Homo sapiens: one gene and its partners. The protein of the gene in region 4 purifies or fractionates together with the protein of the main gene of each other region. This does not show direct contact. Each region holds a gene or a part of one and is shown on either strand. Other genes may lie near its edges.

The links. Proteins that work in one complex are often made in the same cells at the same time.
Region 1: the proteins of LRP12 (region 4) and KCNE3 purify together in Homo sapiens (co-immunoprecipitation; one large-scale study listed by IntAct). This does not show direct contact.
Region 2: the proteins of LRP12 (region 4) and ZDHHC9 purify together in Homo sapiens (co-immunoprecipitation; one large-scale study listed by IntAct). This does not show direct contact.
Region 3: the proteins of LRP12 (region 4) and ZDHHC11 purify together in Homo sapiens (co-immunoprecipitation; one large-scale study listed by IntAct). This does not show direct contact.

The regions. Positions count from the first base shown.
Region 1 is NC_000011.10:74,457,550-74,461,049, forward strand, and holds part of KCNE3 (potassium voltage-gated channel subfamily E member 3), read right to left. Parts: intron 55-3,500; coding exon of another isoform or gene 15-54; coding exon 1-14. UniProt on the Homo sapiens protein: Ancillary protein that functions as a regulatory subunit of the voltage-gated potassium (Kv) channel complex composed of pore-forming and potassium-conducting alpha subunits and of regulatory beta subunits.
Region 2 is NC_000023.11:129,809,387-129,812,886, forward strand, and holds part of ZDHHC9 (palmitoyltransferase ZDHHC9), read right to left. Parts: exon of another isoform or gene 3,435-3,500; coding exon 3,332-3,434; intron 2,124-3,331; coding exon 2,020-2,123; intron 1,616-2,019; coding exon 1,519-1,615; intron 1-1,518. UniProt on the Homo sapiens protein: Palmitoyltransferase that catalyzes the addition of palmitate onto various protein substrates, such as ADRB2, GSDMD, HRAS, NRAS and CGAS. The ZDHHC9-GOLGA7 complex is a palmitoyltransferase specific for HRAS and NRAS.
Region 3 is NC_000005.10:795,105-798,986, forward strand, and holds the end of ZDHHC11 (palmitoyltransferase ZDHHC11), read right to left. Parts: intron 1,477-3,882; 3' UTR 501-1,476; downstream 1-500. UniProt on the Homo sapiens protein: Endoplasmic reticulum-localized palmitoyltransferase that could catalyze the addition of palmitate onto various protein substrates and be involved in a variety of cellular processes.
Region 4 is NC_000008.11:104,495,259-104,498,758, forward strand, and holds part of LRP12 (low-density lipoprotein receptor-related protein 12 isoform a precursor), read right to left. Parts: intron 2,819-3,500; coding exon 1,714-2,818; intron 1-1,713. UniProt on the Homo sapiens protein: Probable receptor, which may be involved in the internalization of lipophilic molecules and/or signal transduction. May act as a tumor suppressor.

The DNA of each region.
Region 1 (3,500 bases), on a different chromosome or scaffold from region 4:
TTGGTAGTCTCCATAGCAACAGGGATTGAGGTGGGGGAAGACTCGGTAGAAGCTCTGGTGGCAAAAGAAAAGAGAGAGGGGATGGCTCTGTCACCTGCAGCTCAAATGACCTCCTCCCTTCAGATCCCAGGTAAAATCTTAGCATCATGGCTGATATGGTTTGGCTGTGTCCCCACCCAAATCTCATCTGGAATCATAGCTCCCATAATCCCCATGTGTCATGGGAGGGACCCAGTAGGAGGTAACTGAATCATGGGGGTGGGTTTTTCCCATGCTGTTCTCATGATAGTGAATAAGTCTCACGAGATCTGATGGTTTAGAAAGGGCAGTTCCCCTGCACCTGCTCTCTTGCCTGCCACTGTTTAAGATGTGCCTTTGCTCCTCCTTTGCCTTCTGCCGTGATTGTGAGGCCTACCCAGCCGTGTGGAACTGTGAGTCCATTAAACTTCTTTTTCTTTATAAACTACCCAGGCTCAGGTATTTCTTCATGGCAGTATGAAAATGGACTAATACAATAGCTTATTCTAGCTGCTTGATTACATGTTTGTCTTCTCCATTAGACCATACACTAAACAATAAGGGCAGGGCCTATATTTGTTTTACTCACTGCTATATGCAATCACTTATGACAGCATTCAATAAGTAAGTACTCAATAAATAATTGTACAACAAAGCCTTCCCTGACCATCAGAACCCATATTAATCTCTCCTTTCTTTGGTTTCTATAAATCACTGAACTTTAGATTAGAAGGAACTTAAGGATTATTTAATATAACTCTTGCCATTTTATACACAGGGAAACTGAGGCCTTGAGAGAATAAGTGGCTTGTCCATGATCACAGAATATTGGAAGTAGAGCCAAGACAGAAAGCCCTGCTCTTTGTGGCTAGCTTAGAGCTGCTTCCACTTCCATGCTAGCTCTCAGCAGGACTGTGCAGCACCATTAGAAGACATTCATCACAACTCTCCTTGAGCACAGTTCTCTTTAGACTGCACAGACAGGTTGGGCACAGTGGCTCACGCCTGTAATCCCAGCACTTTGGGAGGCTGAGGCGGGTGGGATCACTTGAGATCAGGAGTTGGAGACCAGCCTGGCAAATGTGGTGAAACCCGTCTCTACTAAAAATACAAAAATTAGCTGGGCGTGGTGGTGAGCGCTTGGTAATCCCAGCTACTTGGGAGGCTGAGGCAGGAGAATCACTTGGACTCAGAAGGTGGAGGTTGCAGTGAGCCAAGATAGAGCCACTGCACTCCAGCCTGGGCCACAGAGCGTGACTTTGTCTCAAAAGAAAAAAAAAAAAAGACTCCACGGACACCTTTTGGAAGACACCTGGGGATGGTTTAAATTTCATCCTGCCTGGAGGCCAGAAGCTGGATCATTTGCCCTCTCAAGCATCCTGTGTCCCAAAGACTAGATATTCCTAGCTATTTGTAGAAATTCTGTTGGAAAGAGGTGGTCAGGGAAACGGGAACAGGTTGGTAACCACTGCAGGCACTGGAGAAGAGAACAGCAGCTTGGGCCTGAGGGCGGGAGAGTGAAAGGAGTTCTCAGTCTGGCTTGGGGTTTACCTGCCCACAAAAAGAAGACACAAGCACGCCAACTATCTTGTCTCCTGAAATAAAGTCATTATGTACCTGGCATATAGTAAGTGATTATAAATGTTCCTTTCCCTTCTTCTCAGAGATCCTTAGTCTATAATATAGAAAACATTTTTTTTTTTTTTTTTTTTGAGACGGAGTCTCACTCTGTCGCCCAGGCTGCAGTGCAGTGGCGCAATCTCGGCTCACTGCAAGTTCCGCCTCCTGGGTTCACGCCATTCTCCTGCCTCAGCCTCCCCAGTAGCTGGGACTACAGGCGCCCGCCATCACGCCAGGCTAATTTTTTTGTATTTTTAGTAGAGACAGGGTTTCACCATGTTAGCCAGGATGGTCTCGATCTCCTGACTTTGTGATTCGCCCACCTCGGCCTCCCAAAGTGCTGGGATTACAGGCGCCCAGCCAGAAAGAACATCTTAAAACAGACTTGCATCCTTGTCTCTGAAAAACCATATGTAATTCCCTATAAACAAGGCCCCACACTCACTTCCTTTAGGAAGCCTCCATTCAGTGCTCCCCACCTCTCAGCCACACTACACTGCCTTTATCATCACAGCCTTCCCTTCCCCCCAGCACTTACATATAAGGCAATATGTGGCTGTCCTCTTGTTTTTGATAAGGATATCATCAGACCACATGCGTCTGGTCAGCAGGGCTATGTCTCTTACCCCAGTCTGGAGGACTACCCTGAGACTGGGTGTTCTCCTTTCCCAGGGCACTACCTTGAGACTGGCTGGGTATTCCCTTTTTCTAGATTGGCTGGGTGCTCTCCTTCTCTCAATAGTTTCTAGTAGAGATGTTCACTTTAAGGAATTCTCTATGGGCCAAGCATTCAGTCCTCCATCATATGGGTAGAACTGTTAACAAACTAATATGTGACTATTAACCATAAGATCTCTTCCCTGGAAAAGATGATCATTCTGACTATGAAAAATATTCATCAATGGCTCTATGAACACAATCAGCCAGGACTGGGCAGCATTTCATGCAAGGCCTTTGGGGCCTTCTGACATCTAGTACTTGTGCTGCCTTGTCTGGATGGAGGAGGGGAAAAGAACAAGAGCTCACTGAGTTAAGATCCAGGAGATACACGTTCTCATCTACTACCCCATGTGTCAGGCAAGAACTCTGTGGCTGCTGCTTCCCTCGTGTGGGCCAATAGCAAGTAGGAGCAGCATGATGAAATAAATAACTCAAAAAATAATCTAGATAGTTATCACCAATATGGGCCACACCCTGTGATGGGAGTTCGGGGTGGCTCAGATCCAGTGCCTTCGCCCAGGGGCTCTGATACAATGCAGGGGACAAGCAAAGAGCTACTAAGGCTGAAAGGAATAAGTGATGGATACTGATCAGGGCTCAGAGAGTGTCCACAGTGATGGAGGCATTTGAGTTGGACCTTGAAGGGTTTTTAAGAGGCAGAAAAGATGAAGGAAACATGAGCAAAGGCAGAACAAGAAAGTGTGTAAATGTTTAGAAGAATGGAAAGTAGCATAAAGAGGTTGGAGTGTAAGATGTGTGGAAGAATAGTGTAGGATGTGGGGCAGGAGAGAGAGGATCCAGATCATGGGGGGCCTTGAGTGCCACGCTGTAGAGTTGGAACTTTATTCTGTAGCTAGGGAAAAGCCATGGAATGGTATCTTAAAAGAAGATAAAATGGTCAGATCTGTGCCTGGAAAGGATACTCTGGCTGTCATGTGGACTGGAGGGAGCTGGAATTGAGGCAGTGAGCCCAGCTACCAGAGTCTTGAAATAGTTTAGTGTAAGATGCTGAGTCATGAATTGGGGCAGAGAGGATAACAAAGTAGGGAAGTGGGGGTAGAGACAGTCGTAAGACCTGAGGAGGAAATGGCTAAGTGAGGGTTGAAGGAGGAAGGGGCCTCAGGCAATTTCATAGGTAGACA
Region 2 (3,500 bases), on a different chromosome or scaffold from region 4:
AAAGGAACGAAGTACTGCTACATAGTACAACATGGACAAACCTCGAAAACATGCTAAGTAAAAGAAGCCAGTCACAAAAGACCACATATTGTATGATTTCATTTACATGAAATACCCAGAAGAGAGAAATCTGTACTAAAAGGAAGTAGATTAGTGGTTGCCTAGGGGTGTGGCTGGGGAAGTTCAGGGGAAAGGGAGAGTGACTGCTAATGGCTACAGGGTTTCTTAGGGTGGAAGGGTAACGAAAATGCTCTAAAATTGATTGTTATAATGATTGTACAACTCTGTGAATATTCTAGACCAGTGAATCATACATTTTAAATAGGGATCAGTTGGGCGCAGTGGCTCACGCCTGTAATCCTCTACTTTGGGAGGCTGAGGTGGGCAGATCATCTGAGGTCAGAAGTTCGAGACCAGCCTGACCAACATGGAGAAACCCCGTCTCTACTAAAAAATACAAAATTAGCTGGGCGTGGTGGCACATGCCTGTAATCCCAGCTACTCAGGAGGCTGAGGCAGGAGAACCCGGGAGGCGGAGGTTGCAGTGAGCTGAGATTGCACCACCGCACTCCAGCCTGGGTGACAGAGCGAGACTCCGTCTCAAAAAAAAAAAAAAAAAAAATTGGGACCTATGGTATGTGAATCATATCTCAATAAAGTTCTTATTAAAAAAAGAAAGCTCAGCTGGGCACGGTGGCTCACGCCTGTAATCCCAACACTTTGGGAGGCTGAGGCGGGAGGATCACGAGGTCAGGAGATGCAGACCATCCTGGCCAGGATGGTGAAACCCTGTCTCTAGTGAAAATACAAAAATTAGCCAGGCATGGTGGCGGGCGCCTGTAATCCCAGCTACTCGGAGGCTGAGGCAGAGAATTGCTTGAACCTGGGAGGTGGAGTTGCAATGAGCCGAGATCACACCACTGCACTCCAGCCTGGGTGACAGAGCAAAACTCCATCTCAAAAAAAAAAGCTCAAGTAATATTTTTTTTTAGGAAAGTACTTTATATACTTTAAAGATATACTTTATATATCTTAAATAGGACAGCTGGGAGAGTTTCCACAACTTTTGCATATTCCAGTTAGGAAGCCCCCTTCTACCACAGTAACCACATCACTAACTCTAATACAATCCCCTGACCTCTGTCTTTGCCCCTATAGCATTTTATGCTTTCCTCATCAAGGCACTTTTCACAATGTTGAGCAATGGCCTGTTTACTTGTTTCTTGCCCCCACTAGACAATGAGCTCCTTGAGAGCAGGGACATCGTTTGCCTCATTCATTGGTATAACCCTGGCAGCTAGTACAGTGGCTGGCACAGAGTCACTCAATATACACCAAAGAAATGACTAAATCTTAATCTACATCAAGGACACAAAGATCTGAAGGCAACATCAGGGCAGGTGTAGAGGCAGGGAAGCTGGGGTGATTAGAATACAATATTGCCTAATTATATTTCCAAGCTGTAAATTAGCCTCCGCCCTCTCTATATCGACCCAGCCTTAAGTCAGGAACACTTACTGGGCTCTGTGGCAAGAGGCTGCTACTGGTCTCTTGAGTACTGGGAGGTCGACTTCCACTTTCCTCCAGTGGCAAAATACCCCTTCGATCCAGCACACTGAAGGAGATAAGAGAGTTAACAAAGAACTGGGCATTCACCCCTCCACCCACCTGGCCTACGGAATTTTGCTGCATAGACTGGAAAATATAAACCTGTCCTTTGGCAATCTAGCCTGAACACAGCACATGCCTCTTATCTCCCATTCACTTTTTCTTCCACAAACCAGGAAATGTCACATTAACCAGGGAACAAACAAATGAAATTAAGAATGAAAGATCATCCCTCCAAAACAACCAGCCCATGGTCTATGGTCCATGTAGACATGGTACCAAGTGGCAAGCCCTGGAAAGACCTATTTGACACCAAGAGGCCACACTCAGAAAAACACATCAGACAAGGTAACAGGATCAGGTTGAGCTGCTCATCCCAACAGTCCCAGGACTTTTGAGTGCCCTGAGCACCTGGGGGGCAAGGGGCCACACAGCACTTCACAGCAGTTCTTCACAATATTGCCATGGCTGTAGGGATTCTGGACGCGATTCTTCCCTGTCCATGATCCTTTGATCTGCAAGATAAAAACCAAGGCTGACATTAAAAATAATGTTAAAATGAACAAATAATAATAATAAAATTAAAAACAGACACAAAAAAGAAAAATAATAATAATAATGTTGAAGAAACACATGCAGCATGGGATAATAAAAAAGTTCTGGAAATGGATGGTGGCAATGGTTGCACAACAATGTGATGCCACTGAACTGTACATTTAGGATATGAGGGCGATCTGGCTGCAACAACTGTCACCCCATTGATCGCCAGGGTTGAAAGACATTTAATATAGCACACTTTATATCATGTATATTTTATCACAACAAAAAAGAAATACATACACAGCCATGAAAAATACTCACAATAGAGTGAAAAAAGCAGATAACTGAATGATATATACTATTTTTATTTAAAAGTACATAATATAAACACATAAATAAACATGGAAAAAAGTCTAGACAAGTCTAGAATATATAAATCATACTACTAACAAAGGTGATGTCTAAGAAGTAAAGTAAGAGGAACTTACTTTTTTCTTTTTGCTCATCTGTATTTTCTGATTTTCTACAGTGAATGTAGATTAATTGCTAACTTTTTTTTTTTTTTTCCAGACAGAGTCTCATTCTGTTGTCCAGGCTGGAGTGCAGTGGCGTGATCTTTGCTCGCTGCAACCTCCACCTCCCGGGTTCAAGTGATTCTCCTGCCTCAGCCTCCCGAGTAGCTGGGACTACAGGTGCACACTAACACATCCGGCTATATTTTTGTATTTTTAGTAGAGACAGGGTTTTGCCATGTTGGCCAGGCTGGTCTTGAACTCTTGACTTCAGGTGATCCGCCCGCCTCAGCCTCCCAAAGTGCTGGGATTACAGGCGTGAGCCACCACACCCAGCCTAATTGGTAACTTTTTATATAGCAAGGATTCATCCAGTGCAACTGTCCCTCTCCATGCCAAACAGAGGCACCAGCTAGCCTTTAAGGACCTGTGAACAGTTAAAGGCTGTATACCCACCCAACTTTTCAACCTCTTCTTCCTAATGCTCCACAAGCATTCAACAAAGCCCTCTCCTTTCTCTTCCACACATCTGACTTAACAACCTCGCATACCACGTTTCTGCCTGCCTCAACCTCCCAGGCCCTGGAGACTCGGTAGTTCTCTAGCAGGTAGCAAGAGGATAGGCTTTGGGAAGAAGAATATGTGGTGAGGAGAAGAGAAAGTTGACTCACGTCTTCATTGGTTGTCTGGTTGAGAGCCACGAGGAAAGTATGAAATCCAGTCAGTCCCACGACGGACCAGAGTGTAAAGAAGCAAATGAGGACTTCTAGAACAGTGAGGTGTGGTTAAGGAGTATTGAAGAACTCAACATCAGGAGACTTGATGCCTCCGCCCATATTC
Region 3 (3,882 bases), on a different chromosome or scaffold from region 4:
GGGACTATTGAGAAGGGATGATTATATGTTGCAAGGCGAGCTGGACATGAGATTTGAGGGACCAGGGATGGAATGATAAAGCTTGGAGGTTTGTCCCCTCCAAATCCCATGTTGAGATGTAATCCCCAGTGTTGGAGGTGGGGCCTGGTGGGAGGTGTTTGAATCATGGGAGCAGGTTCCTCATAAATAGTTTAGTGCCATCCCCTTGGTGATGAGTGAGTCCTTGCTCTGGTAGTTCACTTGAGATCTGGTCATTTAAAAATGCATGGTGCTCCCTCAACCCCACCACTCTCTCTTGCTCCTGCTCTTACTACATGATGTGTTGGCTCTCACCCCACCTTCAGCCATGACGGAAGCTTCCTGAGGACTCACCAGAAGCCAAGCAGATGCCAGCACCATGCTTCCTGTACAGCCTGCACAACTGTGAGCCAGTTTAACCTGTTTTTAAATAAATTACCCAGCCTCAGGTATTTCTTTACAGAAACACAAAAACAGCCCAATGCACGTAGTAACTTATAGATATATTTGGAAAACTGATTATCTTTTAAAAAATGACTACTAAACAGATTAAAATGCAGAGTTCATTAAAATACAGAGGATGCCTCTGGTTCTCTGGTATTGACTCTTTTTGTCTACTAAGATAAGAAGTCTGGGCTAGGCTGAAAAACTCAGAATCCAGGTCTGGGGTTTCCCAGTACTATGCTCCCATTTCCCAGTACTGTGCTCCCATTTCCCAGTACTATGCTCCCATTTCCGAGTACTGTGAACTCCCCTTTCCCAGTACTGTGGGCTCCCATTTCCCAGTACTGTGCTCCCATTTCCCAGTACTGTGTGCTCCCATTTCTCAGTACTGTATGCCCATTTCCCAGTACTGTGCTCCCATTTCTCAGTAGTGTACTCCCATTTCTCAGTACTGTGCTCCCACTTCTCAGTACTGTGCTCCCACTTCCCAGTACTGTGCTCCCATTTCCCAATACTGTGCTCCCATTTTGCAGTGCTGTGAGCCCCCATTTCCCAGTACTGTGCTCCCATTTCCCAGTACTGTGCTCCCATTTCCTAGTACTGTGCTCCCATTTCCCAGTACTGTGCTCACAGGTGTGAGCCAACATGCCCGGCCCATCAGCTCTTAAGCAGCAAGAGGCCCTGCAGCTGGCTGGCTGGCTGGACAGCACAGTTAAGCAGGTGGCTGCATCCTCTGCAGTTGCTGGCAGCCCATCTTCCTGGAGATGTAAACCCTCCTGCAAGGCTGGCTCTTCTTTGGGTGTGATGAAGATGATGACAGAGATGGATGCTGGGCTCTGAGGGTCCTGGTTCCTTCGAAGGACATCCAGGGGCCTCTGAGATGATGGGCTCTGGTTCCTGGCCTGTAGCATGGGTAGGAGCAGGAGGCTTTGCAAGGTAGACTCTACAGGCAGGACCTTGATGGAGGGTGGGGTTTCAGGGTAGAAGACCTGGATCACAGGGGCACCTGAGCTCCTGCAGGACAAAACAAAGTCACTCTTTGAGCAGCCACCAGGGAGGAAGCTCAGCTCTACTTGTGATGGAAACCCACCGGTGGCTTTTACCCCAACCTGTTGCCTGGAGAGGCAGGGCTGGTTTCTGGGTGGATCATCACCTTGGCTTAGACACAGAGCCCCACTCCCAGCTGGGTCTAGTGAGAGTCCTCCCGAGCCAGGCTCCTGCCCTCCCCATCCTTCCAGAAAGCTTAGAGATGAGTGCATCACCGACAGAGGCCATTTTCTATTGTTCTTCTTCGGAAATACATCCTTTTGAAAGATAACCCATCTTTTATCACTAGATATTTTAAAAAATATTTTCTTTGGCCAGGTGTGGTGGCTCACACCTGTAATCCCAGCACTTTGGGAGTCCGAGGCGGGTGGATCATGAGGTCAGGAGATCGAGACCTTCCTGGCTAATACAGTGAACCCCCGTCTCTACTAAAAATACAAAAAATTAGCTGGGTGTGGTGGTGGGCAACTGTAGGCCCAGCTACTCAGGAAGCTGAGGCAGGAGAATGTTGTGAACCCGGGAGGCGGAGTTTGCAGTGAGCCAAGATTGGGCCACTGCACTCCAGCCTGGGTGACACAGCGAGACTCTGTCTAAATACATATGTGTGTGTGTGTATATATATATATATTCTTTGTTTACGGCATTTATCAATTGAATTATGTTGTGTCTAGAATTTTATTTCCCCTTCTTGGATTCACTGGGCTTTATGAATCTGTGAGTTGGTGTCTTCTAACAATGTTGGCAAATTCTCAGCCAAATCTCCTTAAATATGACATCTTCCCAATTTTCTCTCTTTTCTCTTTCTAGGACTCTAAACATAACATAGCCTTCAAACTGTATTCTCATTCATTTTTTTCACATTTTGCGTTTCTGTCACTTTGTATCTATTTCAGTAATTTCTTCAGCTCTAGATTCTAGTTCCCTAATTCACTTTTCAACTGTCTAATTTGTTGTTAAATCCATCCACTTTAAAAAAAATCAGTGATATTTCTCATAAGTTTTATTTGGTGTTTTTCCATATCTGCTTTGTAATTTAAAAAATAGTTTTCTGTTCTCTTCAGATATTTCTGACTTTGTGTTTTCTTCATGTTTTGGTCTGCCAAATTCAACATCTGAAATATTTATGTGTCTGTTTCTACTACGTTTTCTGCTGCTTCTCACTCAGTGCTTTATTTTCACATGTGGTGGGTTGTTTTTCATTGAGAATTGCTTCTTTGCTTTGTAGTTTTATTTTTGAGAAATCTTTGAGGCTTAGGATGAAGGTTTGTTACTCAGAAGGAATTATGCTTGGCTCCTGGGAATGACCAGTTCAGAATCACTCTCTATTAAATTCTCAGCTTGGGGACTTTTGGTCACCCACCTCACACAAATTTAGGGAGAACCTGTTGCTCCAAATACTCGGCAGTGATTTTTCTCTTTTTCTTTCAGCTCTAGGGCTTGAAATGACTGATCCCCCCTGATTCCTTTGCGGGTAGAGAAGTGAGTTGCCTCTAGTTTGCCACTGCAATGAGGGTACCGCCCTCTGGGGGCCCTTACTTTAAGAGATTACTGATTGGCTTGCCATTTTGGCTGTGCTCTCAGCTTGATCTTCCATTTGTATCTCTTGAAAAGGTGAAAATGAAGTTGACCAGGTTTCACAAATGCCCTCAGGGCAAAGGCCAGCTGCACTCCCCACTAGATTTCTCTTTGGGTTCCTCTGTGCCTTCAACCATGGCCTGAGAATTCCTTATGTCTCCTCAGTTCATTAATGCCTTTAAGAATATTTACACTCGCACTCACATGGACACGGACACGCGCACGCGTGCACACACACACCCTTAACTTGCTCAGTTTCGGAGCATTGTCCGATCCTTGTAAGTGACTTGCCACATGACTAGAACCTCTGGCTTCATTTCACTCCTTCTTTCTTTCCCCTCCCTTTTCCCTTTATGCCATCGGTCTGTATTCCACGATCTTTAAAATCTACCTTAAGTACTTTCTGGGATTATGTAAAAATCAGACAACTCTCCTAGCCACCATCCTTTTCTAGAGATAGGAGTGACTGACTCCTACACCACAGGCACTTTGGAGGGGTAAGGTGTAATACTGAAGAAGTGTTTTGTGTGGTCTACAGTAATTCACAACTCTAAGACGTTATCACAGCGAACATTTGCTGTTTAAAACCTTAGTGGTGAATATTTTTTTTTTTGAATGAGGCTAATTCATTTCGAAAGCACCCTAGGAAGACCAGATGCTTTTGAAATGATTTAGACTCATTCAAAAATAATGCAAATGATAAAGAGCATGCAAATGATAAAGAATGTGACCTGAAATTATCTGCAACTTCAGCAGACAAGCTGTGGTTGGCTGAGTTTGGGCTTCTATAAAACACAC
Region 4 (3,500 bases):
AAGAACAATTTTCTATTATCAGTAATTAAAACAATCTGAGTCTTGGCATATTTGATCATTTTAAAGCTTAGTCATTTGACAAACATTTACTGAATATATGTATTATCCCTACAGTGGGAATACAAAGCTGACGCAGGCAGTCTGTCTTCATAGGGCTTTATGCTAGTAGAAGCCTAGATCACTGAGTTTTAATAAATGAAAATCCCTGTAAAAGGTAAAGGGAGAAATAATACAAGATTTAAAAACTCCTAAGAATACTGTATTTACTGAATATACGTTGAAGCCACTGCGCCCAGCTGGGATCTTTGACTCTTCATTGTGCTCTTTTGTTGCAATGTGGTAAAAAGTTTTCTGGCCATTTACACTTGGCCAAAGATGCAGTGGTCGGGCGCCGTGGCTCACACCTGTAATCCCAGCAGTTTGGGAGGCCAAGGCGGGTGGATCACGAGGTCAGTAGTCTGGGACCAGCCTGGCCAACAGAGTGAAACCCTGTCTCTACTAAAAATACAAAAAATTAGCCAGGCGTGGTGGCGGGCGCCTGTAATCACAGCTACTTGGGAGGCTGAGGCAGGAGAATCGCTTGAACCTGGGAGACGGAGTGCAGTGAGCTGAGATCGCACCAGTGCACTCCAGCCCGGGTGACAGAGCAAGACTCCCGTCTCCAAACAAACAACAAAAAAAAAAAAAAGGAAAAAAAAGAAAAGATGCAGTAATGGTTATTACGATACTGTGCATCTGTGTGCCACCTATTAGCCATCTGTTACGTAAAAAGTTGTTAAATCTATTATTTGTAATTCTCCTGGGACTGAAGGTCATTGTCTCCACAGGGACATCTCTGCCATTAACTTCTGCCAGGTCCCATTTATCCTGCATCAAACTGAAAACTACTCACTCTGAAGGTCACTCTTTAACAGTTAACCATTTCTTACTGAACTGAGAACTCTGAAGTGCTGTTGTCACTTAACTCTACAACAGGACATTAGTCTTGTGTTCCAATCGTATCTCCTGTTAGCCCTTCATACGCATCCTGGGCTCCAGATAAACTGAATCATGTGCTTACTTTTTGAGCAATGCTGGACATTCCTACTTCTATATATTTTCCTAGGTTATTGCTTTAACAACACCTTTTCCCCTATCTATATTCTTCTACTCATACATTTCAAGTGGCACCCCTCCAATTAAAGCCTTTCTGCCTCTCTCCCTCATTAGATTACGTATTTTTGACTTTATACCATTTTGTTTCATAGCTCTTTATAGTATTATACTTTTGTCATCTTATTCCATGCCCCAATTCCTTCCTCCTAACTGTAAACTGCTTGTGATATTATGCCTTATTCATTTTTCTATTTACCTGTATGCTTTGAACATAGCATATAGAATAACTGGAATTTTTGAATTTGTATTTAGAAAAATACAGGTTAAAACACTAAAACTGAGAGCTGCAGCTTACAATATTCCTATAAAACAGATTAATCTGAAAACAGGAGCTGGTAAATAGATGGGCTTTTTCTCATAACTCTAAATATTTAGTTTGTAATGTGTCTGGCCTTCTGAGTCTCGGGTTTTTCACGCTAATTTTATACATCATCAACAATCTTTATCCATTTTCTAAACTAATATAAAACAAAAATACATTGCTAATCATCAAAGAACTTGTTTCAAACACTTGGGCCTGCTTTTATTGAGGCCCAATAGTTCTGTCTTGATACTGACCTTCTTTCAAACATTCTCAGAGAATAAAGCTTACAAGTACATCCCAATGCTATGACGAGTAACAGGCCACAGATGAGGCTCCCTATGACGGCAGCAGTGATGACTCTTGTAGGCACGATTACTGGGCAATTTTCTTCATCGCTGCCATCACCACAGTCATCTTGAGAATCACACACCCAACTTTCAAACACACAACGATTGTTTTTACAATGGAAATTTCCTGGTTGGCAAAAAAAGCAGTTTTTTTCATCTGAGCCATTTGGGCAATGATTCTGGTAGTTGCAGCGATCAGAACGAGGATAACAGACACCATTTCGGGAACATGGAAATTCTTCCTTCTGGCACATGGTACAATTGGTTTCATCCCTTCCATTTGGGCAATGCCAATACCCATCACAACGCTGCTGCTCAGTATAACACCCCCAGTTACCTCCACAGGGTATTTCCCATGGCAAACAGAACCCATCTACTTGGTAAGTAGCATTAAATCCCCTTGCAGCATTCACTTTATCAGCACAAAAATGTACCCTTATCTGTCCAGAAGAAGAAACAACTGTAAGAGGTGCATGAGAATCAAAAGCTGTCAACACACGCAAAAGCTTGTGTGGATTCTCCTCTAATCCATCATATATTTTGACATAATCACCATAACCAGTACCATCAAGTTTAAAGTCAGTGAAGCGTAAAATGACTTTACGGTGATCACCAGTGTCTATTAACCAGGTGCAATTGCTTCCAGGAGGATAAAAGTCTGGATAATTGGGAGAATTAAAAGTACCATAAAAATATTTTAGCCATTGCCCACATGTTGGCACATCACAGTCTATCTCATCTCCTAGGTCAAGGCAGTCAATGTTCCCATCACATTTTAAAGATTCGGGGAGGCAAGTGTAAACTTTGGTAAAACGGGATAAACACTGGAACTGGTTGTAAGCACAGGGTTGAAAAGCAGCAGCAGTTGGAGGATTTGCTTCTTTGGCACAGATCTCTTCATCGGAACTATCTCCACATTCATCCATGTTATTACATTTCCAGGCTTCTGGTATACACTTTCCATTACCACAACGAAACTGATCACAAGCACAATTTGGTTCCTCAGATTTCCCTGTGAAGATGTGAGTAGAAATAGATGGAAAGAGAAGGAGAAAAATTATAATCTTTAAAAGACATAAAACAGCAAGTGATATTTTTATAATAAATGTTCATAAAGCCCAAGTGCTAGAAGTTTTAAAAAACAGGTTGGTTTTTTAATATTTTAATTTTAAGTTCCAGGGTACATGTGCAGGATGTGCAGGTTTGTTACATGAGTAAACATGTGCCATGGTGGTTTGCTGCACCCATCAATCCATCACCTAGGTATTAAGTCCAGTATGCATTAGGTCTTTTCCCTAATGCTCTCCCTCCCACCCCACCCTCCCTAGAAAGGCCACAATAAATCTGGGGCCTGTGTCCATGTGTTCTCATTGTTCAGGTCCCACTTATAAGTGAGAACATGCAGTGTTTGGTTTTCTGTTCCTGTGTTATTTTGCTGAGGATAATGGCTTCCAGCTTCATCCATCCATCCAGCTTCCAGCAAAGGACATGATCTCGCTCCTTTTTATGGCTGCATAGTATTCCATGGTGTATATGTACCAACATTTTCTTTACCCAGTCTATCATTGATGGGCATTTGGTTTGATTCCATCTCTTTGCTATTGAGAATAGTGCTGCAATCAACGTATGTGTGTATGTATCTTTATAAATGGAATGATTTAACAGGTTGGGTTCTAATGACAAATTAGTACTGG